Homo sapiens: one gene and its partners. The protein of the gene in region 3 interacts with the protein of the main gene of each other region in a biochemical or structural test. Each region holds a gene or a part of one and is shown on either strand. Other genes may lie near its edges.

Region 1 (9,728 bases), 3.6 Mb from region 3:
AGCAAATATTGGTGGCTGTAATTAGTCAGCAGTGGGCCTTTGTCTTATTAGTGTGCTGGGGGCTGGGAGGAGCCTCTGGTTGAGTCTCAGGGTGGAGGCGCTGACAAGGCTGGGGGACCCTCACTCTCCTGCGACCAGGAACATACCTCTTCATATAGCTGCCTGAGGAAGTTGATCTCGTCGGTCAGCCCTTCCAGGCGAGACTCCAGCTCTACCTTGTTCATGTAAGCTTCATCCACATCCTGGGGGATGAGGAGAGGGGAGCCTGAGCTGGGTTTCCACACCCAACCCCAACCAAGGGGCTCCCAAGGTCCACCCAATGGCCTGGTCACAGGACTTTCTAGTTGCCCACTTTGTGGATTGATCTTCCAGCCCAGCCTCTGCCCATCACATGTGCATTCTCAGCCCACACACCTTCACCTCTGCTTCCTGCAACACACCCTCTTCCACCTCCTTCTCTAGGGAGCCTTCTAGAGCCAGATCTCCAGTTCTACTGCTCTGTTTTCTGAACCATGTCCCAACACCGATGTCAAGAGTTCTGTCCAAATGCACCTACCACTCCATCCTTGTCTACCTTTCTGTGCACCCAAATGTTTACATAAATGAGTTTGTCCCACTACTTAGGAATATTTAGGGACAAAACCCAGAAAGCTTCTTGGTCTGAGTCTCTGAGCCCCAGCCTCCAGTGTCCAGATAGGAGAAGGGAGACTCCCTCACCTTCTTGATGAGGACAAATTCGTTCTCCATCTCTGTACGCTTATTGATCTCATCCTCATACCTGTGAGGAAAAGACTTACAATTAGAGGATGAAGGCAAAAGGGAGGTTGCCCTTGGTCTTTTGGGAGACAGGGGCGTTGTGAAAATCAGGAAAATTCAGTTCACAGAGATGCAGGATATGAGAAGGCTGGTCCTTCTGCCTTCCCCAGCTGCCCTCTCCACCCTCACCCCTCCCTTAGCCCGTGGGAAGCAGGAAATCTCTCTCCAAATCCATGAATACACATCGGATTGGACACCTTGAGAGTGTTAACAGCAGGGCCTGACATGAGACCTCAGACAGAACTTTCTAGAGTTTGCTAGAGGTCAAGGGTCAAGACTAAAGAGGGGCCAGAATGTTAAGTACAAAAGTGAGGCCCACAGGCTGCCTATCTCTCCCGTCTCAGGTTTACCATGTCAACATTGACACATAATTTGTTCTTCAAATCCAGACAGTTGAGATTGAAAGGGGGTGGGTACTATCAACAATTGTGCTAGGAACCTGGGCATAAACACAGACTGTTCCGAGCAAACCTCATCAGGTGGTCACCCTAATTAGATAGGACTGCACTTCCCACAACAGAGGGCCATGGGGACTTAGTCCCAAGGTCCCAAGGGGTGGAGGAGAGCACGGTGACTTCAGTTGGGTGGAGGGTGGGAGTTGCTCACTTGTTCTTGAAGTCCTCCACCAGCCCCTGCATGTTGCCAAGCTCCGCCTCCAGCTTCAGCTTCTCCTGGCCCAGAGTCTCCAGCTGCCGCCTAAGGTTGTTGATGTAGCTCTCGAACATGTTGTCCATGTTGCTTCGAGCCGTCTTCTGCTGCTGCAGGAGGCTCCACTTGGTCTCCAGCATCTTGTTCTGCTGCTCCAGGAACCGTACCTATACGAAGGAGGAGAGAGCAAAAAGGTCTACATCAGGCCAGGGCTCAAAGTCTGGAGGAAAGCAAGCAGTCTTTTCTCTTAATTCACTCCTCAAGCAGTAAGGTCTCCAGACCCCAGGCACCTGGTTAGCTGTTCTGGAAAGATCACCTATGACCAGGGGGAGAAAGCATGGCATGATGGTGAGGTGGGGAGCAATGTCCCTCAGCATTGGGTAGGGGAAGGAGACAGGTAAGGTAATTATGTTAAAGCTGCATTTGCAAACCAATAGGCCTAACTTCATTTACATAGGTTGTATATTACACATCAATAAAAATAGCCAAGCTTTCTTTGGGAGTCTCCGGCGCCCAGGCTGGAGTGCAGTGGCAAGATCTCAGCTCACTGCAAGCTCCGCCTCCCAAGTTCATGCCATTCTCCTGCCCCTGCCTCAGCCTCCCGAGTAGCTGGGGCTACAGGCACCTGCCTGCCACCACGCCCCACTAATTTTTTTGTATTTTTAGTAGAGACAGGGTTTCACCGTCTTAGGCAGGATGGTCTCGAACTCCTGACCTTGTGATTGGCCCGCCTTGGCCTCCCAAAGTGCTGGGATTATAGGCGTAAGCCACCGCGCCCGGCCAAAAATAGCCAACCTTTCTAAAGATGTTAAGATTGAAAAAGAGGCCGGGCGTGGAGGCTCACGCTTGTAATCCCAGCACTTTGGGTGGCCAAGGCAGGCGGATTTCTTGAAGTCAGGAGTTCGAGACCAGCCTGGCCAACATATTGAAACCCTGTCCCTACAAATAATACAAAAATTAACCGGGCATGGTGGCACGCACTTGTAGTCCCAGCTACTCGGGAGGCTGAGGCAGGAGAATCGCTTGAACCCAGGAAGCGGAGGTTGCAGTGAGCTGAGATCACACCACTGCACTCCAGCCTGGGCGACAGAGTGAGACTCTGTCTCAAACAAACAAAAAAACTTGTAACTCCTTCTAAACTGGAGGGGACAGAAATCTTTTAAGGGTACAGCCTAGTTCCCTCCACCACTCTCTGCAAATCGCTTTCTTCCCCAGGTCATTCTGCCCCAAAATTATTTTTTAAAAAAAAGTGATTATAACATCTTATCCTAATGGAATGTGGGCCAAGCACTGCTGAACTCTTTACATATGTAAGTTTGAATAGGCAAAAACTTTTGCCTATATGGATTTAGGGGCTCTCATATTCATTTTATAGATGAGGAAATAAGACTTGGCAAGGGAGTCCATAACCAGGAACCGGCAGAGCAGTGCGAACCAAGAATTCAGATTCCAAAGCCTATGCTTAGCTGCTCTCTATAAGGACCCCAGGGCTAGCAAAACGCAGTCAACAAGTCAAGTCCAGGCGCTTGGAGCGCCAAGGGCCCCCGACCACTGGGTTCCTGGGGCTCCGGTTCCTCCCGGCTTACTCTGCCCCAGGATTTCCCTCCTCCCGTTCCCACAATGCCTCCCAGGAGCCAGTCAGCGTGAAGGGCCCAATCCTCGGGGCCGCCGGGGGCCCGGGGCCCCTCAGGCAGCGGAGTCCCAGGGCTGCAAAACCCGGCCTGGCTCCTGCTGTGTGAAAGTGGAGCCAGGCCGCTGGGGCGGAGCAGGGACAGGACGCGAGAAAGGGACACGGGCTGAATGGGCGAGGGGCGTTGGTGGGCGACCGCGTTATCTGAAGCCATAAACTTAACAGGACGTAAACCCCGGGCGGGGCGTCCCACGCCCGCAGACTTTGAATCCTGCATGGGCTTTCCGAGGCCAGGCCCTGGCGCCTCCTCCACCCCACCCCAGCCCACCCCACCCCACCCCACCCCACCCACACCGCCCCCGACGCCGAGCTCCGCCAGGTGGAGGAGAGCGTCCCGAGACTGCTGCCCGCAGCCCCTCACCCCGCCCTCGGCCCCGCCCACGCTGCCGGCGCAGGGGCCGGGGTATGACTCATTCTGTGACCCCCGCACTCAGGCCTCCGGGCGCCAAAGGCCTCAATCAATATTTGCCCGTTTGAACCGAGACACCCACTTCCTTCTCCTAGAATGCTAGAATCACACCAAACCCCTATGTAAAAAAAAGAAAAGAAAGAAAAAAAATCACAAAGGCACCACTGGGGAGCCCTTGGGGTAGTGCTGGCGAAGAGGCGAACCTGGAGGAGGGTAGTCCCCGAACAGCTGGGACTGCCGCAGGGCGATAGCTTAAAAGACGGTCAGAACTCGGGTTGGGGTGAGAACAATAACCGCTATTATTTTTTATAATTTGGGGACAGAATGACCTGAGGAAGAACGGGATTTGTAGAGAGGGGTGGTGGGAACTAGGCTGTACCCTTAAGTTGTCTCTCTCTTCCAAGACCCTCCAGTTTAAAAGGGAAGAAGGAAGCCCCAGGATTCATCCCGGCTGTCCAGACCCTCTCCCCACCCTCACCCAGCCCAAACCAAGGTGCACGGGAGGGGTGAGTCGGAGGATGGAAGGGAGAGTGTCGCCAGGGCGGGTGAGGCCCAGCAGGACGCCAGCTGGGGGCTGGAGATGTGCATAGGGACCGGGACTACCAGGAGAAAGGGGCTGCGGGCACAGTCAGCCACGCAGGGGGGACCCTCACCTTGTCTATGAAGGAGGCAAACTTGTTGTTGAGGGTCTTGATCTGCTCCTTCTCCTGGGTGCGCACGGCCTGGATGTTGGGGTCCACCTCCAGGACAAGGGGGCTCAGCAGGCTCTGGTTGACCGTAACTGCGGTGATGCCTCCCATGCCGCTGGCCCCACCATAGCCGCCGCCCAGGCCACCGCGAAAGTTGCTGCTGCCCACTCGGGAGAAGCTCGAGGAGCTGATGCGGGAACCGGGCCCACTCGTGTAGGAGCGGCTGCTGAAGGCCCGGGGGCCAGAGGTGGACACCTTGTAGGACTTCTGGGTCACCCTGATGGACATGGTAGAGGCAGGAGTGGAGGCAGGCGGGCCGAACCAGGCGGAGATCCTAGAAGGAGCGGAGAAGCTGCTTCTTGGTGAGGAGAGCTCTCAGGAATGGCCTTTTATAAAAGAGATCCCAGCCCCGGGGGATGGGGGGGAAAGGCCTCGTACCTGAGTGGCTAGGCCCAGAGGGGGCTGGGCCTAACCCGTCACCTGCCACCTCCGGGCAGGACTCAGGTGGGGGCAGCAGAGAGCTGCCGCCACCCAAGGGCCCGTTCCAACCCTGGAGCCCACTCCAGCACCACCCCCAGAAACCCAGGAAAAGGCAGTTCAGTGAATATGAAACTGGAAGAAATCCTGTCCTGGCACAAGTGCCTGTAACAAGCAGACTTGCCTGGGCCGCCCAGCCACTACAACCCTGACTCCTGGGTCTTGTCTCCCTCCCTCCTGGGGGAAATAAACTGGAGGACTGGGAAGCATGGGAAAAAGGGGTCTCCTAGTATTTGGGTCTCCTCTGAGCTGCCGACACCCCAGAGAAACTCTCCTGTGTTCTCCCTGATTGAAGCGATTATGAGGGCCTGCCTGAGCTGGATGACAGAACAGCTGGAGTCCAAAGCCTTGAATCTGAAATCAACCATTTGCCTCATCTTTCCAGGTTACTGTTCTACCCCTAGCACCTGGTGCAGTGCCAAGAGGGTCTGGGTAGATATTTGTGGAATGAATGAATGAATAAATAAATGAGTGAATAAACATCACACGCGCACACACACACACACACACACACATACACATACACACACAGTGGCTGTCGTCCCTCTACATCTGAAGGTGCAAGATAAAAAGAGATCCAAGGCCAGGCACGGTGGCTCACGCCTGTAATCCCAGCACTTTGGGAGGCTGAGGTAGGCGGATCACGAGGTCAGGAGTTCAAGACAAGCCTGACCAACATGGTGAAACCCCATCTCTACTAAAAATACAAAAATTAGCTGGCCATGGTGTAATCCCAGCTACTCAGGAGGCTGAGGCAGGAGAATCACTTGAACCCGGGAGGCAGAGGTTGCAGTGAGCTGAGATCGTGCCACTGCACTCCAGCCTGGGCGACAGAGCGAGATTCCATCTCAAAGAAAAAAAAGAGCGAGATCCAACACAGCACTTTTCCTGAACATAACCCAGGGGCTTCCTCTCCTTCCAAGATCCTAGGATCCCCTGGGCCAGGTGAACACTGTAGGCCTCACTGAAGGGCCTAGAGAATGATGAACAGGGCTAGAAGGCAGAGAACGCAGGGGTTGGGGGGGGCAAGAGGAGATGGGAGCTATGTCAGGGACTTCATAGTTCTTGCTCTTTGCGGGAGTCACTCCCATTGCTCCCAGTGAGTGAATCATGGGAAGTGAGACAGGACGGCAGGGGGTACAGTGGAGTGGTGTGGCACTCGTGGTGCTACCTGGACCCTCCTGCTTTACCCAGGCTCCCAACGGGCCAGAGGAAATAGAGGAAGAGTCCCTGCACCTGTCTCCCATTATCAAAGTGAGTCAGGAGGGCAGGTTGGGACGTAGCACGCACCTGTGGGAGGTTGGAGATTGGGGAGCTGAGCAAGGCACCCCAGGCCTGGGTGGGGCCAGGCAGGGCATGCTGTGGGTGGAAGGCAGGAGGTTTAGGTCCCCAAGGCAGAGATTCCACCTGCAATTACCTGATGGCTGGGGCTGGGTTCTCTGGAAGATACTGCAGGGTGTGATGTGGGGACTGGATGAAACTGAACTCAGAGGACCAACAGATGACAGCCAGATCCCCTTGAGGAGAGGGACAGGTGACATAGCCCTGACCCAGGGAAGGGGGTGACCACCTACTGGGAGGACAGATGTACAGTTTCTTCCCCATCCTTCTCTAGGAGAGACACCCAGGCTCACAGAAAGACAGGCACATAGGACCCCTACCCAGAAGGACAGAGAGACCCAGAAGCCCCCTCCTTGGAGGACAGACAAACTTAAAAAGACAGACACACAGACAAGCTCTCTTCACAATGCACGCGTGCATACACACACACACACACACACACCCCACACATTGAAGTCCCTTCCAGAAAAATGCATAGATCCCAAGAGCGGGCACAGTGAGTGGCTCCTTCACCTCCCCTCCCCTCCCCAGGCCCTGCCTCCTGCTATGCTGAATGGAGCAAGGGAAATTCAGTTAGCACCTATTTACACCAGGCCTTCTCCCAGCTCCTTTAAACAATGCCTAATTTTCCCAAGAGTGATTGGAAGGCATGCTACCCCCTCCCCAACAAACACCCGCACCCACCAGGGCTGAGAAGCTTTTAACAGAAGACCAAAGGGAGAAGGACTGGGCCCAGTGCCAAACCTGGGACAGGGAAGGCGGAAGGAGGGAGGGAGGGGCTGGTCAGACGGGTATGGCAGCCCTGGAAAGGGAGGACAGGCGCTCTCCCTATCTTCCCTCCCCCACGCTGCTGTTAGAGGGAGCAGGGGGCACTCAGGTCCTGATCTAGGCAGCACAAGGAGCAAAAAAACAGCACCCCAAAGCCTTTCCTGAAATTCCAGTCCCCTCCACCCCACCTTTCTGGTTCCCTGGTTCTAGGAGTGTCCCTTGTTTAAGGTGAGGACAGAGGGGGTTGCCAGGGACCCTGCAGTATGCAGGCTGGAGGGCTGACCCAGACCTTACCCAGCCAGGGGAAGCCCTTTTTTTCTGGGGCAGCCCAGAACCGTCTAGGGCCAGAAGTGTTTGTGTCTCATTTGTCATCTCTCTATTGCCCAGAGACCCCAGCCAAACCTTCCCCCAGATGCCCCAAGCACAGCCTCGGTGCAGGAGAAGAGGCCAGAGTTGGCCTCTCTGATGGCCCCTGCCTGGGACTTCAGGGTTAAAGGCAGAAGGAGAAGGCCCCTGGGACTAGGGCCAAGTGGTGAGGGAAGAGAGAACCAGACTGGAGCAGGCCCACAGGTACAACTCCTTGTAAGGCATTGTGGTCTACACACAGCTGCCTGCCGGACAAAAGGGAACAACGTGTTTGCGGTGCCTGCCCTACCCAGACAACTCTGCCTCAAACCGCCTTTCCTGGAGAGTGAACCAGGGAAGGAGGAGACACTCACTCCCTGTGGGCCAAGAGTGAGGGCCAGGCCCCCTACTTCTGATGGTGCAGGATAATTCAGAGAAGGCCCTGAGACCCTGAGCAGTGGCATTAAGTCTTGGGGCCAGTGGGGTGGGGAGGTAGCTGTTATCATCACTCATGATCATGGGAAGAGATGGTCTGAACAAGTTTTTTTTTTTCTTTTTTGAGACGGAGTCTCGCTCTGTCACCCAGACTGGAGTGCAGTGGCGCAATCTCGGCTCACTGCAAGCTCCGCCTCCCGGGATCTGAACAAGTTTTGCTTAGAGATCAGGACTGATGATCTCATTCGCTGCAACCTTGTTCATAATAGCCAAAGAGTGGGAACAAAACAAATGTCCACCAAATGACGAATGGATTTCTTTAATGTGGCATATCCATACGATCTAATGTTACAATTAAAAGGAATGAACTACTGATGCATGTTGGATGCAGATGAGCCTTGAAACCCGTATGCTCAGTGAAAGGAGACAGTCATAGAAGATCAGGTACCCTATGATTCCATTTATATGACATGTGCACAACAGGCAAAGCATAGAGACAGGAAGTAGATTAGTGGTTGCCTAGGGAGGGGAGGAATGGAGATGAATGCTAAAGAGCACAGGGTTTCTTTCTGGGGTGATGAGAATGTTCTAAATTTGATGGTGGTGGGCAGGCACAATGGCTCTACCTATAATCCCAGCACTTTGGGAGGTCGAGGCAGGAGGATTACTTTAGCCCAGGAGTTTGAGACCAGCTGAGCAACATAATGAGACCCCCGTCTCTACAAAAAATACAAAAATTAGCCAGGTATGGCGGCACACGCCTGTAGTCCCAGCTGCCCTGGAGGCTGAGTTGTGAGGATCACCTGAGCCCCGAAAGTTGAGGCCGCATGCATTGAGCCAAGACTGTGCCACTGCACTCTAGCCTGCGTGGGAGACAGAGTGAAACTCTGTCTCAAAAATAAATAAATAAATAAACAAATTTGATGATGGTGAAGCTGCACAAGTCTGTGAACATACTAAAAATCACTGAACTGCAAGCTTCAGATTGTTGAATTATATTGTATGTGAATTACAGCTCAACAAAGTTGTAACAAAAAGATAACCACAAAAGCATAAATGAGCTACATATAAAAAGCAGGGGCTTTGTGCCCAGCATAAGGGGTCAGGGGAAAGAAGCAAAGAGTTTGTTTAGATGCCCCAGGTAAAGAGGCTTCCTGCCTCTGGGTTAAGGCAATGCCCGAAAAGCACCCGAAATCCCTTTAAATGATGGAGCATTTTGAAATGTTATTATTGGTATAGAAATAGCTGCATTTAGCATAGAGACAGCAGAACAATTTGTTTAAATAGGAAGCCACAGGTGGTGGGTACACCCCTCAGGAAGCAGCATCATGAATAATAGAGTCAATTCGATTGCTAATTTTGTGTTATGTGCCTCAAGGCTAAAATTTTTCATTGTCAAAGCTTAGCAAATGCTGACTTTTTTGCTCTTGATCAGTGATGGATCTGATGATTAAAGCCAGCCAGGATGGAAATGGACTGCCTAGAGAGGGAGCAACCTCCTGTACCTGGAGACATGGAGAGGGACCTTGCTCACCAGCTGTCCACTGGCTCAGTGGGAGGGGGTTCTCACATCTGCTAGGGTTTGAATTAGAATGTCCAAGTCCCGCCAACTCTGAAAGCTTTTGATCCACATCCACCACCATAGAGCTTTACGCACTGAAGATGAAAATCTGTGAATGTTCTCTGGTTTGAAATTTTGCTTGTGATAAGAGATATGATTAGAAATTATTAGAACAAGAGTGAGGGAGGACAGCACAGCCTTGTTGTGGAGGAAGGAGACACAAGCCCAGCAGCCTGAAGATGTTGAGGTCTCCCACACTTTTTTTTCTTTTTTTTAGAGACAGGATCTCACTATGTTGCCCAGCCTGACTCGAACTCCTGGATGCAAGCAATCCTTCTGCCTCAGCCTCCCAAAGTACTAGGGTTACAGCGTGAGCCACTGCACACAGCCTTTCTCACATTTTCAACATTCTCTCACCCTCCTCTCCACTGATGCCAAACCAAGAAGGTCATCCCACTGGGTGAGCATGAAGCCTAGGCGGAAGGTCCC
Region 2 (10,304 bases), on a different chromosome or scaffold from region 3:
CTTAAGTGTAAAACTGGGACCTATGATCCCTTGTTGGTAAGAGTTACTTTCAAGACATTCAGACATACCCTGTGTAACTGTACCCAACACAAAGCCTGGCACGTGGTAACTACTATTTAAATACAAGTAGTATTACATACAGGTTGTAGCTGAGTGTATGGATGTCTTATTTCCTCACCAATCTGTGAACTGCTAGGGAGCAGAAACTATATCACCTTCTTCTCAGCATCTTCCACAGCCTATCTGAACACAGGGACTAGCTCAAAGTAAAACTTTTATAGAAGAAATGAACAAACTAGAAGGGTAGAAATGGAAAAGAAGCACAAAGTTAAGGATGGCAATGTCAGAGATCTCACCTTTCGGTTTCTTTTGCCCCGGGTCCTGGTTGTGGGCTCCAGGCTCAACTGAGCCAGATAGTCATCTGCCAGGGCCTGGACAGCAGCAGCAACCTGAGTCTCAAGGGCACTTACGTTGGTCTGAGCAGAGGCTATCTTGGCCTGGGCCCCTTGGTCAGCATTTGGAGTCTGGCTTTCAGTTGCCCGAGCCTTAGTGGCAGCCTTCCGAGCCCTAGACCCTCTCTTGACCCGCAGGGTGGCTGCCAGGGCTTGGTTTGTGACTATCTGAGTGGCAAGTGGGGCCTCAGAGATCTCAGAGACAGAATTTGGGCCCCTGCTGGCAGCCTTCTTGCCCTTGGATTTTTTGGGCCTGATAGCCACTACTGAGGCCTCAATCTGCCTGGTAGCTGCGTCAGTGACATTTAGAGCCTCTATATGCTCAGTGTCAGTATTTATGACCTTAGCAATTGTCTTCCTGGCTTTGGAGGCTTTCTTGGTTCGGATGGAGGCTGCTGTGGTGTGGATACTGGCTGTCTCATTGGTAATTTGGCCTTGGGTGGTAGCTGTATGGGTGGCAGTTGCAGCCAGCGAGACCTCGGTGGCACTAGCTATGGCCTTATTTGCAGCCTTCTTAGCCTTGGAAGCTTTCTTAGGCTTGATAGAGGTTATCAAGGCTTGGGAACTGGCTGACTCATTGGCAATTGGAGCGTGAATATTCTGTGAGATGACTGGTAGCTTTAGGACCTGCAAGGGTGACTTCAGCTGTATAGTGCCACCCTCATGGCCAGTTGGGGATTGGGAGCCTTGGGCTGCCTTGGCAGTAACTCTCTTCATCTTGTTGGCTTTCTTAGGCTGAGCAGTGACTGAAGAAGCCTGAGTATTGGTTACCTCAGTGGTAGGTAAAGCCTGGCTGATCTGGGTAATGACTGGCAGGTTTAAAGCCTGCCAAGTTATTTTGGGCTTGTTGGTGGCAATCTCATTGGCAGCTGGGACTGGAGGGGCAGCAGGTGCAGCCTTAGTAATAGTCTTTATAGGGGCCTTCTTGGTCTTGCTTTTCTTAGGCCGGTTGACAACTGGTGGGTCCATGGCCAGGGAGTCCTTGGTTGCCGCCAACAGGGTATGCATCAGCAGGACACTGTCCTCTTCTGTGGTCTCAGTCTGTATATCTGGAGGGAAGGGAAGCCCCAGGCTCCCCGGGGGAGGCAGAGGGCCCTACACACTTAGGATTACCATCCTCTGGGCCATTTGGCCTCGCTAAAGCCCATCCCTTTCCACAAAGGCCTTCCCTTCCTCTGAGCAGTGGTTAATTAAAATGGGGTAGGGAGCAAGGAAGGAATAGAGTCAGGCAGGTTTTCCTCTCCTCTCCTTCACCATGTAAGGGAGGACTGAGACGAGTTAGGCAGGGAATTATGAAACTACACGGTGGAAGGGGTCTGAAGAGCAGTAAGTGAACTCAGGATGGGGCAGATGGCCTAGAGAGAATGCAGAGAGGCCTCACCTGAAATAGAGGCACCCTATATCCGTAGTCATTTCTCCTATCCATCTTTCTGGGAGGCCGAGTAACAGGTGAGCCTGAGGGGAATGGGCCTGAGTTAGAGAATGAGAGGGAGGGGGAGATTCATCAGACATCTCACCTATCCTGACTTAGGGGAGTCTCATGTAACCTTGGGCCCTAATCCCTTCAACTCCTGGGTTTTCATACCTAAAAAACCCAGGCCATCTGGTTTCCAAGGCCCAGCTCCTTTTGCCTCCGAGAGAGTCAGTTCTACGACCCCACCCCTTTACACGCCCCCTCCGCAACTCGATAGTGCGCATGCGCACCGACTAGAGGCGCCCCCACCCCCCATCTTAGGCCCACCTCTATCCCAAAAGAACCATTCTTCAATGCCCTCCGCGCGCATGCGCCTTGGTAAACCGGACAGTTTCTAACCAGCTCAATCCCACATCTGCCCCCTGCTCTCAGAGCAACAGAACATCTTGGCGCCACCCCGACCCACTCTTTCTAACTGCATCACATCTCGATCCAACCCTTCCCCCAACACTAGCCCCCTCCCTCCGCTCTGCAGTACCACTCCGCACCGCCCCTACCCCAACACCGCCCATCTCTCCTCTGCGGTACTGCCACGCACCGCCCCTTCCCAATACACCCCCCTCCCTCCGCTCTGCAGCATTTCTCTTCATCTTCCCTTCCTTTAATAAGCCCCCTCCCTCCGCTCTGCGGTACGTCTCTGCACCACCCCTTCCCCAACCAACACCACTCCCCCCTCTTTCCACGTCTGCAAGTGTGCAGCTCCGCCCTTTCTGCAACATGAATACCTCACCCCCAAATCCAACTGTATGAACCTTCTGTGTATTCCTGTTCTCAAACCCTACCAGGTCCTGTCTCTTCCCTTTCAAACCGGAACCAACCGGGTCATATCCCCTCCTTTCTCCTGTCTGAGTCTGGTCCTTTCCGTTGCTCAAAAGGGATGCTGCCCACTCTTATCTCTGGGTCCCGATCCCTCCATTCTGTGGCCCAAACGGGGTACTGCCCCCTTTCTCCAGCCTAAACGGAGTCCTGCCGTCTCCTATCTCCCTCCCGAACTGTGTGTATCCTCCTCCCCTCTTGCTACCGTCTGAAGGATTTCTCGATCCTTCCTTTCTGCGGTCCCAACTAGGTCTGCATCCCTCCCTTTCACGGCCCGAACCGAGTCCAGATCGTTACTTTCTGTGGCCCAAAGGGGATTCTGCCTCCTACTTCCTCCCGTGCGAACTGGGTCCAGGCACCGCTAAAGGCGACTTTGATGCGGTTAGGTCCCAAACCTCCAGCAGGTTTTCTTCAAACCTTAGGGGCGTGTGGAGTCAGGCACGTCGAAGCCGCAGCCAGGAAGCCCCCACAGGGTCTTCACTAAAGCCAGGTACCTCAGCTCACCTCGTCTTCTTGAATCCAGAAGGCGTCTGCTCTCTCCAAGCCTCTCCTTGTGTCTGAGCCTATCCCCCTCCCTGGCCGGAAGTGGTCCTGCCTCTTTCCGCCTCCAGAGGGGGGTCTCCGTTCCTGCCTGTCAGTCTCCTCCCCTCCATACCTACTTTCAACTTTCCATTCTCCTCAATGTAGCTCCCTTTTTCTTCTTACTACCCCTATTCAGTTATCACTCCCTCTTATTCTCCATTTGACTTCTCTATTCCCCACTCTGTATCTCCGTTCCTATTTGATTCTCCTGTTTCCCCTAGGAGGAATGTAGTTCTCTGAACTCCCACACCAACCCTTCCTACAGACCCTCTATCCCAACACTATTTACATAGTGTTGTTATACCTTGTGTCTATGTCTCTCTTCCCTAGAGCTGCTCTGGAGCAGGGGACTAGGTCATATTCATTTCTGTTTTTCAAGTGTTACCACATTAAAACATTTAGAGGTTCTAAACACTAAAAGATAGGGTGCCCGTCCATCTTATGCAATTCAGAATAAAAACAGTAATGTATAAAAATCTATGAAAAGTTTTTATTGATCCCACAATGACTATATTGATGTTTTAACAATATCAGTTTGTACTTAGACTGTCTCTTGTGACATGGTGCACTGTGCCCCCATGCAGAAAACAATTCATGACATTTATCTATTCCATCAATCATTCAAAAGAGAGCAAGGATAACTACACATATGTCAAATAAAATAGACTTAAAGTCAAAAACCATAAAAGATCTTAAAGGTCATTATATAATGATAATGAGATAAATTCATCGTGAATATCGAATAATTATAAACATATTTAATATATGCACCCAACATAGAAGCACCTAAATATATAAAACAAATATTAATAGATCTGAAGGGAGAAGTAGACTGCAATACAATAATGGTAGGAGACTTCAAGACCCCATCTTCAACAATTCACAGATCATCCAGACAGAAAATCGATAGGGAAACATTGAACTTGAAATACACTTTAGACAAAAAGGACCTACGGAATATTTTATCCAATAGAATATATAATATTCTCAAGCACACATAGAAAATTCTCCAGGATAGATCATAAGTTAGGCCAAAAACAAGTCTTTTTTATTTTATTTTATTATTATTCTACTTTAAGTTTTAGGGTACATGTGCACAATGTGCAGGTTAGTTACATATGTATACATGTGCCATGCTGGGGTGCTGCACCCATTAACTCGTCATTTAGCATTAGGTATATCTCCTAATGCTATCCCTCCCCCCTCCCCCCACCCCACAACAGTCCCCAGAGTGTGATGTTCCCCTTCCTGTGTCCATGTGTTCTCATTGTTCAATTCCCACCTATGAGTGAGAATATGCGGTGTTTGGTTTTTTGTCCTTGCAGTAGTTTACTGAGAATGATGATTTCCAATTTCATCCATGACCCTACAAAGGACATGAACTCATCATTTTTATGGCTGCATAGTATTCCATGGTGTATATGTGCCACATTTTCTTAATCCAGTCTATCGTTGTTGGACATTCGGGTTGGTTCCAAGTCTCTGCTATTGTGAATAATGCCGCAATAAACATATGTGTGCGTGTGTCTTTATAGCAGCATGATTTATAGTCCTTTGGGTGTATACCCAGTAATAGGATGCCTGGGTCAAATGGTATTTCTAGTTCTAGATCCCTGAGGAATCACCACACTGACTTCCACAATGGTTGAACTAGTTTCCAGTCCCACCAACAGTGTAAAAGTGTTCCTATTTCTCCACATCCTCTCCAGCACCTGTTGTTTCCTGACTTTTTAATGATTGCCACTCTAACTGGTGTGAGATGGTATCTCATTGTGGTTTTGATTTGCCTTTCTCTGACGGCCAGTGATGGTGAGCATTTTTTCATGTGTTTTTTGGCTGCATAAATGTCTTCTTTTGAGAAGTGTCTATTCATGTCCTTCACCTACTTTTTGATGGGGTTGTTTGTTTTTTTCTTGTCAATTTGTTTGAGTTCATTGTAGATTCTGGATGTTAGCCCTTTGTCTGATGAGTAGGTTGCAAAAATTTTCTCCCAGTCTGTAAGTTGCCTGTTCACTCTGATGGTAGTTTCTTTTGCTGTGCAGAAGCTCTTGAGTTAAATTAGATCCCACTTGTCAATTTTGGCTTTTGTTGCCATTGCTTTTGGTGTTTTAGACATGAAGTCCTTGCCCATGCCTATGTCCTGAATGGTAATGCCTAGGTTTTCTTCTAGGGTTTTTATGGTTTTAGGTCTAACGTTTAAGTCTTTCATCCATCTTGAATTAATTTTTGTATAAGGTGTAAGGAAGGGATCCAGTTTCAGCTTTCTACATATGGCTAGCCAGTTTTCCCAGCACCGTTTATTAAATAGGGAATCCTTTCCCCATTGCTTGTTTTTCTCAGGTTTGTCAAAGATCAGATAGTTGTAGATATGCGGCATTATTTCTGAGGGCTCTGTTCTGTTCCATTGATCTGTATCTCTGTTTTGGTACTAGTACCATGCTGTTTTGGTTACTCTAGCCTTGTAGTATAGTTTGAAGTCAGGTAGCGAGATGCCCCCAGCTTTGTTCTTTTGGCTTAGGATTGACTTGGTGATGCGGGCTCTTTTTTGGTTCCATATGAACTTTAAAGTAGTTTTTCCAATTCTGTGAAGAAAGTCATTGGTAGCTTGATGGGGATGACATTGAATCTATAAATTACCTTGGGCAGTATGGCCATTTTCACGATATTGATTCTTCCTAGCCATGAGCATGGAATGTTCTTCCATTTCTTTGTATCCTCTTTTATTTCATTGAGCAGTGGTTTGTAGTTCTCCTTGAAGAGGTCCTTCACATCCCTTGTAAGTTGGATTCCTAGGTATTTTATTCTCTTTGAAGCAATTGTGAATAGGAGTTCACTCATGATTTGGCTCTCTGTTTGTCTGTTATTGGTGTATAAGAATGCTTGTGATTTTTGTACATTGATTTTGTATCCTGAGACTTTGCTGAAGTTGCTTATCAGCTTAAGGAGATTTTGAGCTGAGACAATGGGGTTTTCTAGATATACAGTCATGTCATCTGCAAACAGGGACAATTTGACTTCCTCTTTTCCTAATTGAATACCCTTTATTTCCTTCTCCTGCCTAATTGCCCTGGCCAGAACTTCCAACACTATGTTGAATAGGAGTGGTGAGAGAGGGCATCCCTGTCTTGTGCCAGTTTTCAAAGGGAATGCTTCCAGTTTTTGCCCATTCAGTATGATATTGGCTGTGGGTTTGTCATAGATAGCTCTTATTATTTTGATACATCCCATCAATACCTAATTTATTGAGAGTTTTTAGCATGAAGGTTGTTGAATTTTTTCAAAGTGACAGACAAAAACAAGTCTTAACAAATTTAAGAATATTGAAATCACATCAAGTAATATATGCACAGTGGTATGGAACTAGAAATCATTAATGATAAGAATTGTGGAACATTCATAAATATATGGAAATCAAAAAACATATTCCAGAATAACCAATACGTCAAGGAAGAAATTAAAGGGAAAATTTAAAATATCTTGAGACAAGCGAAAATGTATATACAACATACTAAAACTTATAGAATGCAGCAAAAGCACTTCTAAGAACGAAGTTTATAGCAATAAATACATACATCAAAAAGAAAAAAGATCCCAAACAATCTAACATCACACTTCAAGGAACTGGAAAAAAAAGAACAAATAAGCTCAAAATTAGTAGAAAAAAGGAAATAATAAAGATCAGAGCAGAAGTAAATGAAGTAGAGATTAGAGAAACAATAGGAAAAAAATCAGTGAAACCAAGAGTTGGTTTTATGAAAAGATAAATAAGATTGACAAGCCCTTAGCTAGATCAACTAAGAAAAAACAAGAGAAGACTCAAAATCAGAAATGAAAGAGGAGACATTACAATTAATACCACAGAAAAGCAAAAGATTTTAAGAGAATACTAAGAACAATTATATGCCAGGAAATTGGATAACCTAGAAGAAATGGATACATTCCTAGACACATAAAACCTACCAAGACTTAAGCTTGAAGAAATAGAAAATCTAAACAGATATGTAATGGGAAAGGAGACTAAATCAGTGATAAAAGTCTCTCATCAAAGAAAATCTCCAGACCTGGTGGATCCACTGCTGAATTTTACCAAACATTTAAAGAGGAATGAATATCAATCCTTTTCAAATTCTACCAATACATTGAAGAGAAAGAAACACTTCCAAAGTCATTTTACAGAACCAGAATTACCCTGACACCAAAACCAGACAAAGACACTAGAAGAAAAGAAAATTACAGACCAGTATCCCTGAGGAACATAGATGCAAACTCCTCAGCAAAATACTAGCAAACCAAATTCAACACCATATTAAAAAGATCGTTCATCATGATCAAGTGTGATTTATCCCAAGGATGCAAGGATGGTTCAACACATGCAAATCACTAAATGTGATAGAATACCTTAACAGAATAAAGGACAGAAACCACATGATCATCTCAGTAGATGCAGAAAAGGCGTTGATAAAATTCAACAATAATTCTTGATTTTAAGAAAAAGCGCTCAGCAAATTAGGTATAAAAGGAAACGTACCTCAATACAATAAAGCTCATATACAACAAACCTATAGCTAACATCCTACTCAATGGTGAAAAGTGGAAAGCCTTTTCTCTAAGGTCAGGAATAAAGCAAGTATGCCTGCTCTCACCACTTATATTCAACATAGTACTGACATCCTCAGCAAGAGAAAGAAATGTAATCCAATTTGGAAAAAAAAGAAGTTTAATTGTCCCTGTTAGCAGACCACATAACTTTATATGTAGATAAAGAATCCACAAAAAATAACTAAGAAACAAATTCAACATACAAAAATCAGTTGTATTTCTTTTTTTAATTTTAAATTCAATAGGTTTTAAGGGAAGAAGTGGTGTTTGGTTACATGAATAAGTTCCGTAGTGGTGATTTCTGAGATTATGGTGCATGCATCACCGAGCAGTGTACACTGTATCCAATGTGTAGTCTTTTATCCCTCAACTCCTCCCAACCTTTCCCCCAAGTCCCCAAAGTCCATTGTATTATTCTTAGGCCTTTGCGTCCTCACAGCTTAACATCCACTTAAGTGAGAACATACGATGATGTTTGGCTTTCCATTCCTGAGTTAACTTCACTTAGAATAATGGTCTCCAATTCCATCCAGGTTGCTGAGAATGTGATTATTTCATACCTTTTTACAGCTGGGTAGCATTCTATGGTGTGTATATATATATATATATATATATATATATATGTGTGTGTGTGTGTGTGTGTGTGTGTGAGTGTGTGTGTATATATAAATGCCCATCAATCAACAAGTAGATAAACTGTGATTATATATAATATAAAGTATATATTACTTAATATTATATATTATATAATATATCATGATATATATACTCTTTTACTTATTTTTAAATGTACAATTAAATTATTATTGACTATATATATAATATATAATATAACATATAATATATACCTATATATCTGACAAATAACTTATATCCAGATATATAGATATATATACTAGTGTGTATACTAATATATATAAGTGTATTAGTATATATACTAATATGTATAAGTGTATTAGTATATATACTAATATGTATAAGTATATTAGTATATATACTAATATGTATAAGTGTATTAGTATATATACTAATATGTATAAGTATATTAGTATATATACTAATATGTATATTAGTATATATGCTAATATGTATATTAGTATATATGCTAATATGTATATTAGTATATATGCTAATATGTATATTAGTATACATATTAGTATACATATAGTATACATATGTATATTAGTATATATACTCACATACATATTAGTATATGTATATATATACTAATATACGTATTAGTGTATGTATATATATACTGACATACGTATTAGTATATGTATATATATACTGACATACGTATTAGTATATAGTATATATATACTGACATACTTATAGTATATAGTATATATATACTACATACGTATAGTATATAGTATATATATACTGACATACGTATTAGTATATAGTATATATATACTGACATACGTATTAGTATATAGTATATATATACTGACATACGTATTAGTATATAGTATATATATACTGACATACGTATTAGTATATAGTATATATATACTGACATACGTATTAGTATATAGTATATATATACTGACATACGTATTAGTATATAGTATATATATACTGACATACGTATTAGTATATAGTATATATATACTGACATACGTATTAGTATATAGTATATATATACTGACATACGTATTAGTATATAGTATATATATACTGACATACGTATTAGTATATAGTATATATATACTGACATACGTATTAGTATATAGTATATATATACTGACATACGTATTAGTATATAGTATATATATACTGACATACGTATTAGTATATAGTATATATATACTGACATACGTATTAGTATATAGTATATATATACTGACATACGTATTAGTATATAGTATATATATACTGACATACGTATTAGTATATAGTATATATATACTGACATACGTATTAGTATATAGTATATATATACTGACATAGTATTAGTATATAGTATATATATACTGACATACGTATTAGTATATAGTATATATATACTGACATACGTATTAGTATATAGTATATATATACTGACATACGTATTAGTATATAGTATATATATACTGACATACGTATTAGTATATAGTATATATATACTGACATACGTATTAGTATATAGTATATATATACTGACATACGTATTAGTATATAGTATATATATACTGACATACGTATTAGTATATAGTATATATATACTGACATACGTATTAGTATATAGTATATATATACGATATACGTATTAGTATATCGTATATATATACTGATATACGTATTAGTATATATCTAACAAATAACTAATATCCAGAATCTACAAGGAACTGAAACCAATCAGCAAGAAAAAACAATCCCATCAAAAAGCGGACATG
Region 3 (9,983 bases):
ACATCGCGCCACTGCACTCCAGCCTGGCGACAGAGCACGACTCTGTCTCAAAAAATAAATAAATAAATAAATAATAATAATAAATAAATAAATAAAGTGGATATGGGGCTGGGTGCAGTGGCTCACTCCTGTAATACCAGCACTTTAGGAGGCCGAAGCAGGCAGATCATCTGAGGTCAGGAGTTCTAAACCAGCCTGGTCAACATGGCAAAACCCCCCTCTACTAAAAAATATAAAAATTAGCCAGGCGTGGCCAGGCACCATGGCTCATGCCTGTAATCCCAGCACTTTGGGAGACTGAGGTGGGCAGTCACCTGAGGTCAGGAGTTTGAGACCAGCCTGGCCAACATGGTGAAACCCCATCTCTACTAAAAATACAAAAATTAGCCAAGCATGGTGGCGAGCACCTGTAATCTCAGCCACTCGGGAGGCTGAGGCAGGAGAATCGCTGAACCCAGGAGGCAGAGGTTTCAGTGAGCTGAGATCGGGCCACTGAACTCTAGCCTGGGAGACAGAGCAAAACTCTTCCTGAAAAAAAAAAAAAAAAAAAAGAGGTCGGGCGTGGTGGCTCACACCTCTAATCCCAGCACTTTGGGAGGCTGAGCCAGGCGGATCACGAGGTCAGGAGATCGAGACCATCCTGGCCAACATGGTGAAACCCCATCTCTACTACAAATACAAAAATTAGCTGGGCATGGTGGCAGGCACGTGTAATCCCGGCTACTCGGGAGGCTGAGGCAGGAGAATCCCTTGAACCCAGGAGGCAGGGGTTGCAGTGAGCCGAGATTGCGCCACTGCACTCCAGCCTGGTGACAGAGCAAGACTCAGTCTCAAAAAAAAAAAAAGAAGAAGAAGAAAAGAAAATTAGCCAGGCGTGGTGGTGCGTGTCTGTAATCCCAGCTACTTGGGAGGCTGATGCAGGAGAATCACTTGAACCCAGGAGGTAGAGGTTTCAGTGAGCCGACATCAGGCCCCTGTACTCCAGTATGGGTGACAGAGCAAGACTCCATCTCAAAAAGTAATAATAAATAAAATAAAATAAAATAATTTTTAAAAAAGTGAATGTGGGATTAATATTCATAATATAGTGTAATCTTATGAAGGAACAAAAGTAAAGACAGGAATCCAAAATAAAAAAAGCACAAAGGATATGAATAGGCATTTCAGAGAGAAGGAAGCTTTATTGGCTAACAAGAATATGAAATAGCCAGGCGCAGTGGCTCACACCTGTAATCCCAGCACTTTGGGAGGCCAAGGTGGGTGGATCACCTGAGGTCAGGAGTTGGAAACCAGCCTGGCCAACATGGCGAAACCCTGTCTCTATGAAAAATACAAAAATTAGCCAGGGATGGTTGTGGGTGCCTGTAATCCCAGCTACTAGGGGGGCTGAGGCAGGAGGATCGCTTGAACTTGGGAGGCTGACGTTGCAGTGAGCCAAGATCGTGCCACTGCACTCCAGCCTTGGTAACAGAGTGAGACTCCATCTCAAGAAAAAAAAAAAAGAATATGAAGTAACACTCAAACTCACTAGTAATCAGAGAAATGTAATTTTAAATAACTGAGAGTACACTTAATATACCTATTAGAATTGCAAATATTAGAGAGTTGTATAATATTACGTGTTGGAAAGGGTATGAGGTAATAAGAACTTTCAGTAATGATGTTGAGACTGTAAACAGCTACAGACCTGGGTTTTCTTGCTTGGTTTTGTTTTTCAGGGTTTTTTTTAGAGTGTCTCACTGTTATCAAAGCTGGCTTCAAACTCCTGAGCTCAGGCAATCCTCCTACCTCAGCCTTCTAAGAAGCTGGGACTACAAGTGTGTGCCATGCCCGGTTTACAGCTACAGATTTTCTGAAAAATAATCTGGTGCTACTTAGTAAAATTGAGCATGCATATACCTTACCACAGAAATTCCACTCCGAGGAATATGTTCCAGAGAAATTCTTGAACTGGTTCACAGGGGACTATGAAAGAGATAACTGTCTGGCATTGTGTGTAGAAGTCAGGAATGGGTAAGTAAAGTATAATGGATGCCTACCATGGAATCCTATGTAGCAGGTATAAGCAATGAATTAGATTATATGTAGTAATAAGGATGAATCCTGAAAACAGAGTTAATCAAAAAAAGTAAAAGCAGGCTGGCACAGTGGCTGACATCTGTAATCTCAGCACTGTGGGAAGCTGAGGCAGGAGGATGGCTTGAGCCCAGGAGTTTGAGACCAGCCTAGGCAACATAGCAAGACCCCATCTCTATACAAAAAAGTGTATATTAAAAATATATATTTTTTTGAGACAAAGTCTCACTCACTCTTTCTCCCAGCCTAGAGTGCAGTGGCATGATCTCTGCTCACTGCAACCCTCCCTTCTGGGTTCAAGTGATTCTCGTGCCTCAGGCTCCTGAGTAGCTGGGATTACAGGCATGCATCACCACGCCCAGCTAATTATATTTTTAGTAGAGACCGGGTTTTGCCATATTGGCCAGGCTGGTCTTAGACTCCTGACCTCAAGTGATCCGCCTGCCTTGGTGTCCCAAAGTGCTGGGATTACAGGCATGAGCCACCACGCCTGACCTTAAAAATTTTTTTAAAGAGGAAGTTCAAACATTATTTCTTCTTGGAGGTCTTCCTTGTTGATGCATTCAATCATATATTCATCTATCTATTGACTCATTCAACAAGGATTGAGCACTTTTACGAAGGATAATGCAAGGTACTAAAGATATGATGGTAGGCCAAAAATAGAGGGTCACCTTCATCATCTCCTTGGAGGTCTATTGGAGGAAACTGGGTTTAGTAAACATATTATGTTCACACTGATTAATATATAATTACCAACTAACATACATGCTCTGAGGAAACAAACATTACTTTTTGCGAGCACATAGCCAAGAGGTCTTTACTAGATTGGGGTGGGTGGTAGGTAGAGGGGTGCAAGGAAGGCCTGAGGAAATAACAATGGGAATCAATTTGGAGGCATAAATAGGCCAAGTGGAAGTGAAAAGGACATTCCAGAAACAGGGACCATATAGAGCAATCAGGACAAACTTGAGGAATTGAAAGAAGCCATGAAGTTGGAGATATTAATAGAAGGGGAAGAGTGGTAGAAGATGGAGGGTTTCAGTGGGGAGAGGTCAAGGGATAGTGGTAGCCTGACTTGATGTGCATTTTGGAAAGATTACTCTAGCTGCTATATGGAGAATGGAAGAGTGTGAAGAGAAAGAGAGAATAGGGGATGGGAGACCAACTAAGACACTCTTGCAATTGCCTAGGTGAGACTGAGGTGGATTAGGGTGGTGCTAACAAAGAACAAGAAAGTAGATGGGCCGGGTGCGGTGGCTCACGCCTGTAATCCCAACACTTTCGGAGGCCGAGGCAAGTGGATCACTTGAGGTCAGGAGTTCGAGACCATCCTGACCAGCATTGTGAAACCCCGTCTCTACTAAAATACAAAAATTAGCTGGGCATGGTGGCTGGTGCCTGTAATCCCAGCTACTAAGGAGGCTGAGGCAGGAGAATCGCTTGAACCCGGGAGGTGGAGGCTGCAGTGAGCTGAGATCAGGCCACTGCACTCCAGCCTGGGGGATAGAGCAAGACTCTGTCTCAAAAAAAAAGAAAGAAAGAAAAAGAGAGAGTGAGAGAGAGAGAGAGAAAGAGAGAGAGAAAAAAAAAGAGAAAGAAAGAAAAAGAGAGAAAGAAAAAAGAAAGAAAGAAAGAAAAAGAAAAAAGAAAGAAAGAGAAAGTAAGAAATTTTTTTTCTTTTTTGAGACAGAGTTTCACTCTTGTCACCCAGGCTGGAGAATGCAGTGGCACAATCTTGGCTCACTGCAGCCTCTGCCTCCTGGGTTCAAGTGATTTTCCTGCCTCAACCTCCCAAGTAGCTGGGATTACAGGCATCAGCCACCATGCCCAGCTAATTTTTGTATTTTCAGTAGAGACGGGGTTTCACAATGTTGGTCAGGATGGTCTCAAACTCTTGACCTCAGGTGATCCGCCCACCTCGGCCTCCCAAAGTGCTGGGATTACAGTCATAAACCCAGCCGAAAGTAGATGATCTTTTTGTTGTTGTTTGTTTGGTTTTTTTTTGAGACGGAGTTTCGCTCTTGTTGCCCAGGTTGGAGTTGCAGTGGTGCGATCTCGGCTCACCTCAACCTCCGCCTCCTGGGTTCAAGCGATTCTCCTGCCTCAGCCTCCTGAGTAGCTGGGATTACAGGCATGAGCCACCAAGTCCGGCTAATTTTTGTGTTTTTAGTAGAGACGGTTTTCTCCATGTTGGTCAGCCTGGTCTTGAACTCCCAACCTCAGGTGATCCCCCTGCCTTGGCCTCCCAGAGTGCTGGGATTACAGGCGTGAGCCACCGCGCACAGCCTGAAAGTAGATGAATTTTAAAGATGCATACAATTAGTAAAGATACCTTACGTATCTTTAAATTTTTTTTTATAGAAACAGGATCTTGCTACACTGTCTAGGCTGGTCTGGAACTCCTGGCCTCAAGCGATCCACCTGGGCCATCCAAAGTGCTGGGAAAGACGCCTGTAACCCCAGGCTAGACAACGTAGCCAGATCTTGTCTCTACAAAAAAACACAAAAATTAGCTGGTGGCAGGCACCTGTAGTCCCAGCTACTTGAGAGGCTGAGGTTCCCACCTCAGGAGGCCGAGGCTGCGGTGAGCTGAGATCGCACCACTGCACTCCAGCCTGGGCGACAGAGTGAGACCCTGTCCCAAAAATGCATAAATAGTAAAACTAGTGAGAGTGAATGAGAGATGGGATATGTAAAGGGAGTGGGAGGAGTTAAGGAGTAACTCCTCGGTTTCTGGCTTGTGTAAGAATAACTTCTGTGATTGGTGGGGAAAATCCACCAGAGTTCTGTTAAGTGTTGTTCATTTCCTGTCCCCCGTTAGGGGTTACCCCTTCCATCTTAAGCAGGATATTCTAGGATCTCTCAGTCTCACAGCCTTGCCCACCAATAACCAGCAGGTGAGCCCCCTCTCCCCAGACCTCTAGATCTGCAAAAGGCAACCTGGAGGCAAGGAAATCCCCAGCTGTGAGTAGCCATTCAATTCTGGTGCTGTGGTAACTGAGTTCAAAAACAATGAGTCTTGTTACCTACCCGTAAAATGAAAGACACCTCATCAGACACCTCACTGGATTGTGAGGCTCCAAGGAGCACACATATTGTTAGGCTCAGTTCGATTCCCTCCAGCCCTCTCCGCCCGTTTGAAGGCAGTTCCTTATCCCGGAGACAACGTACAGATGTTCTCTCTTTCCCTCTTTATTTTTTTTAAGACAGGGTCTCTGTTGCCCAGGCTGGAGTGCAGTGGCGCGACCACAGCTCACTACAGCCTCAACCTCCTGGGCTCAACACGATCCTCCTGCCTCAGCCTCCAGAGCGGCTGGGACTACAAGCGCGCACCACTGCACAGGGATTATTATTATTATTTTATTATTTTGTAGAGAAACGGGTGGGAGTGGTCTCGCTATGTTGCCCAGGCTGGTCTCAAACTCAGCTCAAGAGATCCTCCCGCCTCGGCGTCCCAAAGTGTTGGGATTACAGGCGCCTGCCACCGCGCCCGGACGCAGATATTTTCTATGGGCATCTGGAATGGCGTCCCCAAAGCTTGGCGCCGTGCTATGGTCAAGCCGGGTCGGGGGCTCGGGCCAGCCTTCAACACCGTTGGCAGCAATCGGAACGATCAACTGTACCCTCAGTACCGCGACCTCGCCCGGTCCTGCCAATGGCCGGCCCCTAGCCGGTCCTGAGGCCTCGCGAGAGCTCCCGTGGCTACGCCTTCCCCGGCCTCGGAACGGCCCCATCCTTCCTCTTTCCCCGCCTCCCAGCGGCGCTCCACTCTCGGATTGGCTGATTGATCCGAGTCAGTTTTTTTCCTCGCCAGAAAGCGGTTCGACAATTGGTCCTTCTTTTGGCCCCTCCTGCGATGCCCGCGGATTGGACGGCTGAGTCTGGCTACGCGGGCCTCCGCGGGAGCGCGACCGGGCCAATCAAGAGCTTGGCGTATTTTACAAACTGAGAAAGTAGCTCCAGCAGCACCCGAGAGGGTCAGGAGAAAAGCGGAGGAAGCTGGGTAGGCCCTGAGGGGCCTCGGTAAGGTAAGGCACGGGGGTCTTGAAGGGAACGAAGGCTGCTGGGTTCATAGGGAGGAGGGCAGTTTGGGGCCCGAGGGCGAAAGAGTAGGCTCGGGGTGTCTGGAGATAGCACCCATAAGAGCGGTCTTGCAGGCGCCGGGGGCTTGTGGGCGCGTGGATTAGGGCGGAGGTATCAGGGATGGCAGGACAGGTGCCCCGAGAACTGGTTGATCTTTGATCTTAGATTCTGCCTGCCTTCTTCCCCGTCTCAATTGTAGCCATCATGACCACCCGGCAAGCCACGAAGGATCCCCTCCTCCGGGGTGTATCTCCTACCCCTAGCAAGATTCCGGTACGCTCTCAGAAACGCACGCCTTTCCCCACTGTTACATCGTGCGCCGTGGACCAGGAGAACCAAGATCCAAGGGTAAGAGGGGCCTAATGGGGGAAGACAGTAGTCACACCAGTAATGCACCCCAACACTAAACCTCACCTTTTTGTCCCCGCTCCCTCCCCTAGAGATGGGTGCAGAAACCACCGCTCAATATTCAACGCCCCCTCGTTGATTCAGCAGGCCCCAGGCCGAAAGCCAGGCACCAGGCAGAGACATCACAAAGATTGGTGGGGATCAGTCAGCCTCGGAACCCCTTGGAAGAGCTCAGGCCTAGCCCTAGGGGTCAAAATGTGGGGCCTGGGCCCCCTGCCCAGACAGGTACCTGTTGGAGCCATGGTAACACGGCCTCCATGGCTGAGTAGGGGACTAGGAAGGGTAAAAGTGGGGTTTTGGGGTTTTGCACTCACTCCTGCTGTCTCCTACTTACTGTGATAGTCCTGGTCCCAGCTCCTGGAAAGCTCTTTGCTCTTAGAAGATCTCCCTTTCCTCCAGCAAAATGTCATCTCGCCAGGTGCCATGGCTTGTACCTGTAATCACAGCTACTCAGGAGGCTGAAGCAGGAGGATCACTGGAGGCCAGGAGTTGGAGACCAGCCTGGATGACAGAGGGAGATCCCATCTCTTTAAAAAATAAATAAATAAATAAATAATAAATATCACTTCTTCTGAAGCCTTTTCCAGTTCCCCATGTCACAATCAGTTGCTCTGTGTTCTCCTAATACTTTGCAGCACTTCTTTTATAACATGTATATACCTTGGCTTGAGTCTGTTACCTGTCTATAGTTTGATGATAGCCTCTTGAGGATAGGGGCTTTGTCTTATTCTTATGGGACCCCAGTGCTTAGAATAGTGTCTTATGTAACATTCTATGAACATTTGGTGACCAGGTGTGGTGGCTCACGCCTGTAATTCCAACACTCCTCCGAGGCAGGAGGATCATTTGAGCTCAGGAGTTTGAGACCAGCCTAGGCAACATAGTGAGACCCCATCTCTTTTTCTCTTTTTTTTTTTCTTTTCTTTTTTTTTTGTGGAGACAGAGTCTTACTCTATCCCTCAGGCTAGAGTACAGTGGCATGATCTCGGCTCACTGCAACATCCACCTCCCAGGTTCAAGCGATTCTCATGCCTCACCCCGAGTACCTGGGATTACCAGCACCTGCCACCACACCCAGCTAATTTTTGTTTTCTTTCTTTTTTTTTTTTTTTTTTTTGAGACAGAGTCTCACTCTGTCACTAAGCTGGAGTGCAGTGGCACGATCTTGGCTCATTGCAACCTCCACCTCCCAGGTTCAAGTGATTCTCCAGCCTCAGCCTCCTGAGTAGCTGGTACTACAGGCGCGCGCCACCAGGTCCAGCTAATTTTTTTTTGTTTTTGTTTTTTGTAGAGATGGGGTTTTACCATGTTGGCCAGGCTGGTCTCAAACTCCTGACCTCAGGTGATCCACCTGCCTCAGCCTCCCAAAGTGCTGGGATTACAGGAGTGAGCTACCGCACCCAGCCAATTTTTGTATTTTTTTAGTGGAGACAGGGTTTTGCTATGTTGGCCGGGTTGGTCTCAAACTCCTGACCACAGGTGATCCACCCGCCTCGGCCTCCCAAAGTGCTGGGATTACAGGCATGAGCCACTGCACCCAGCCATCTATTTCTTAAAAAAAAAAAAAAAAATAAGCCAAATTCAATTGAATGAGTCTCTTGCTCACCTTGTACCTCAAAGTTCCTATGCTAGGGGCCCTATCCCCCTCAGCCTTCCCCCTTCCTTTTCCTTCTCCTCTTTCCTTGCAGAGGCTCCAGGGACCATAGAGTTTGTGGCTGACCCTGCAGCCCTGGCCACCATCCTGTCAGGTGAGGGTGTGAAGAGCTGTCACCTGGGGCGCCAGCCTAGTCTGGCTAAAAGAGTACTGGTTCGAGGAAGTCAGGGAGGCACCACCCAGAGGGTCCAGGTAATGAAACAGGATGTGAGGAGACCAGGCTAGGGGGCACTGAGGGGGGCATCCTGAGCAGTGCTGACAGCCTCTGTTGGTGTCCCAGGGTGTTCGGGCCTCTGCATATTTGGCCCCCAGAACCCCCACCCACCGACTGGACCCTGCCAGGGCTTCCTGCTTCTCTAGGCTGGAGGGACCAGGACCTCGAGGCCGGACATTGTGCCCCCAGAGGCTACAGGCTCTGGTGAGTGCCCTTGAGGGGCTGATAGTCGGTGCTTCTGGGAGCTCCTTCCAGGGACAAAGCTGGGCTCTGGGAGAAGAGGTACCTCATGATGAGGCAAGGGATCCTACTGGGGGAGATGGGGTTGGTGGTGAGGCCTGAGGGTTTGGGGTCCACCTCTGATTCCGTTTTCATCTCTTGCTCCTGTGGATCAGATTTCACCTTCAGGACCTTCCTTTCACCCTTCCACTCGCCCCAGTTTCCAGGAGCTAAGAAGGGAGACAGCTGGCAGCAGCCGGTGAGAAAGGAGAGGGTGTGGGAGAAGGTCATCTGGAAAAGAATGAACCAGTGTCTGATACAGGAGTCCCCCAGAGTTGGGGCCTTCCAGGAGCTTTAGGACTCCCCACCAACTCAGGAGGGGAAGCAAGAAACCTGTGATTACCCGGGATGAGCCCTTGGGATAGGGTTCAGGCTTTCACAGCCAGGCCTCAGTGTGACATCAGTTTACTCAAGTCATGGGGGGACAGGGAGGACAGAAATGTGCTATCTCTTTTGTTTAGTGGCTAGAGTATAGACTGTGGCAATAAGTGGGATTTGGGTTTATATCCTAACTCTTAACACTTACTATTTGTGCAAGCTTGCCTTCACCTCTCTGAGCTTTGGTTTCTTTGTCAAGTGAGAATAACATTTGTACCATCATTAGTTGTCATGAGAATGAAATGAGATGATGTTTGTAAAGCACTTAGCACATGTCCAGCTCATACTTGGTATTCAGTGACTGCTGGCTAATGTCCTTATTGTCATCAGGACTTCAGTGAGCCAGGCCTCAGGATTGCTCCTGGAGACCCCAGTCCAGCCTGGTAAGTGTTTCTGGCGTGGGGAGAGAACAGGGGCAGTTGGGCTGCCTGAAGCAGGGAACAAGACCAGAGAAAACTCAGCAGGCTGGGAGGGAGCATGAGGAAGTGGGAGGCCGGGAGGCTAGGTCAGAAGGAGAAGGAGAAGAGACCTTCTAGATAGGCCAGCGATTGGCACAGTTGCACTTTTGTCTAAGGAGATGGTCTCCATTTCGGCCCTCTCTCTGCCACTTCCTGCAAGATTTATCTTCCACTCACTGTTTATCCCCAGCCCCTAAGTGCCATCACCACATCCCCAGCCTACTCAGACGTTCAGATTAATAAGTGTTTACTGAGATAGTGTTGGGTGTTGAGGGGCTGCTGGATGGGTTCCTGTCCCTAATAGTGCAATGGGGCCTATTAAACTAATATACCCTCTTCAGAAGTTGCAGAACACTGTGCCAAACTTTGGTGGGTGTTCTAGAGTCTACAACAAATGTCCTGTTTCTTCCTAGCTTTCTCTCTTCCTAAA

What was found.
Region 1: the proteins of TROAP (region 3) and KRT8 form a complex in vitro, tested with the Homo sapiens proteins (one study listed by BioGRID).
Region 2: the proteins of TROAP (region 3) and TRO form a complex in vitro, tested with the Homo sapiens proteins (one study listed by BioGRID).

The regions. Positions count from the first base shown.
Region 1 is NC_000012.12:52,900,442-52,910,169, forward strand, and holds the start of KRT8 (keratin, type II cytoskeletal 8), read right to left. Parts: upstream 4,636-9,728; 5' UTR 4,587-4,635; coding exon of another isoform or gene 4,541-4,586; coding exon 4,217-4,540; intron 1,632-4,216; coding exon 1,423-1,631; intron 779-1,422; coding exon 718-778; intron 243-717; coding exon 147-242; intron 1-146. UniProt on the Homo sapiens protein: Together with KRT19, helps to link the contractile apparatus to dystrophin at the costameres of striated muscle.
Region 2 is NC_000023.11:54,913,821-54,924,124, reverse strand, and holds the start of TRO (trophinin), read right to left. Parts: upstream 3,302-10,304; 5' UTR 3,247-3,301; exon of another isoform or gene 3,160-3,246; intron 3,138-3,159; exon of another isoform or gene 2,657-3,137; intron 1,923-2,656; 5' UTR 1,879-1,922; coding exon 1,834-1,878; intron 1,548-1,833; coding exon 357-1,547; intron 1-356. UniProt on the Homo sapiens protein: Could be involved with bystin and tastin in a cell adhesion molecule complex that mediates an initial attachment of the blastocyst to uterine epithelial cells at the time of the embryo implantation. Directly responsible for homophilic cell adhesion.
Region 3 is NC_000012.12:49,317,243-49,327,225, forward strand, and holds the start of TROAP (tastin), read left to right. Parts: upstream 1-6,012; 5' UTR 6,013-6,107; intron 6,108-6,361; 5' UTR 6,362-6,366; coding exon 6,367-6,510; intron 6,511-6,602; coding exon 6,603-6,795; intron 6,796-6,904; exon of another isoform or gene 6,905-6,912; coding exon of another isoform or gene 6,913-7,032; exon of another isoform or gene 7,033-7,146; intron 7,147-7,249; exon of another isoform or gene 7,250-7,334; intron 7,335-8,258; coding exon 8,259-8,416; intron 8,417-8,504; coding exon 8,505-8,642; intron 8,643-8,833; coding exon 8,834-8,916; intron 8,917-9,425; coding exon 9,426-9,478; intron 9,479-9,966; coding exon 9,967-9,983. UniProt on the Homo sapiens protein: Could be involved with bystin and trophinin in a cell adhesion molecule complex that mediates an initial attachment of the blastocyst to uterine epithelial cells at the time of the embryo implantation.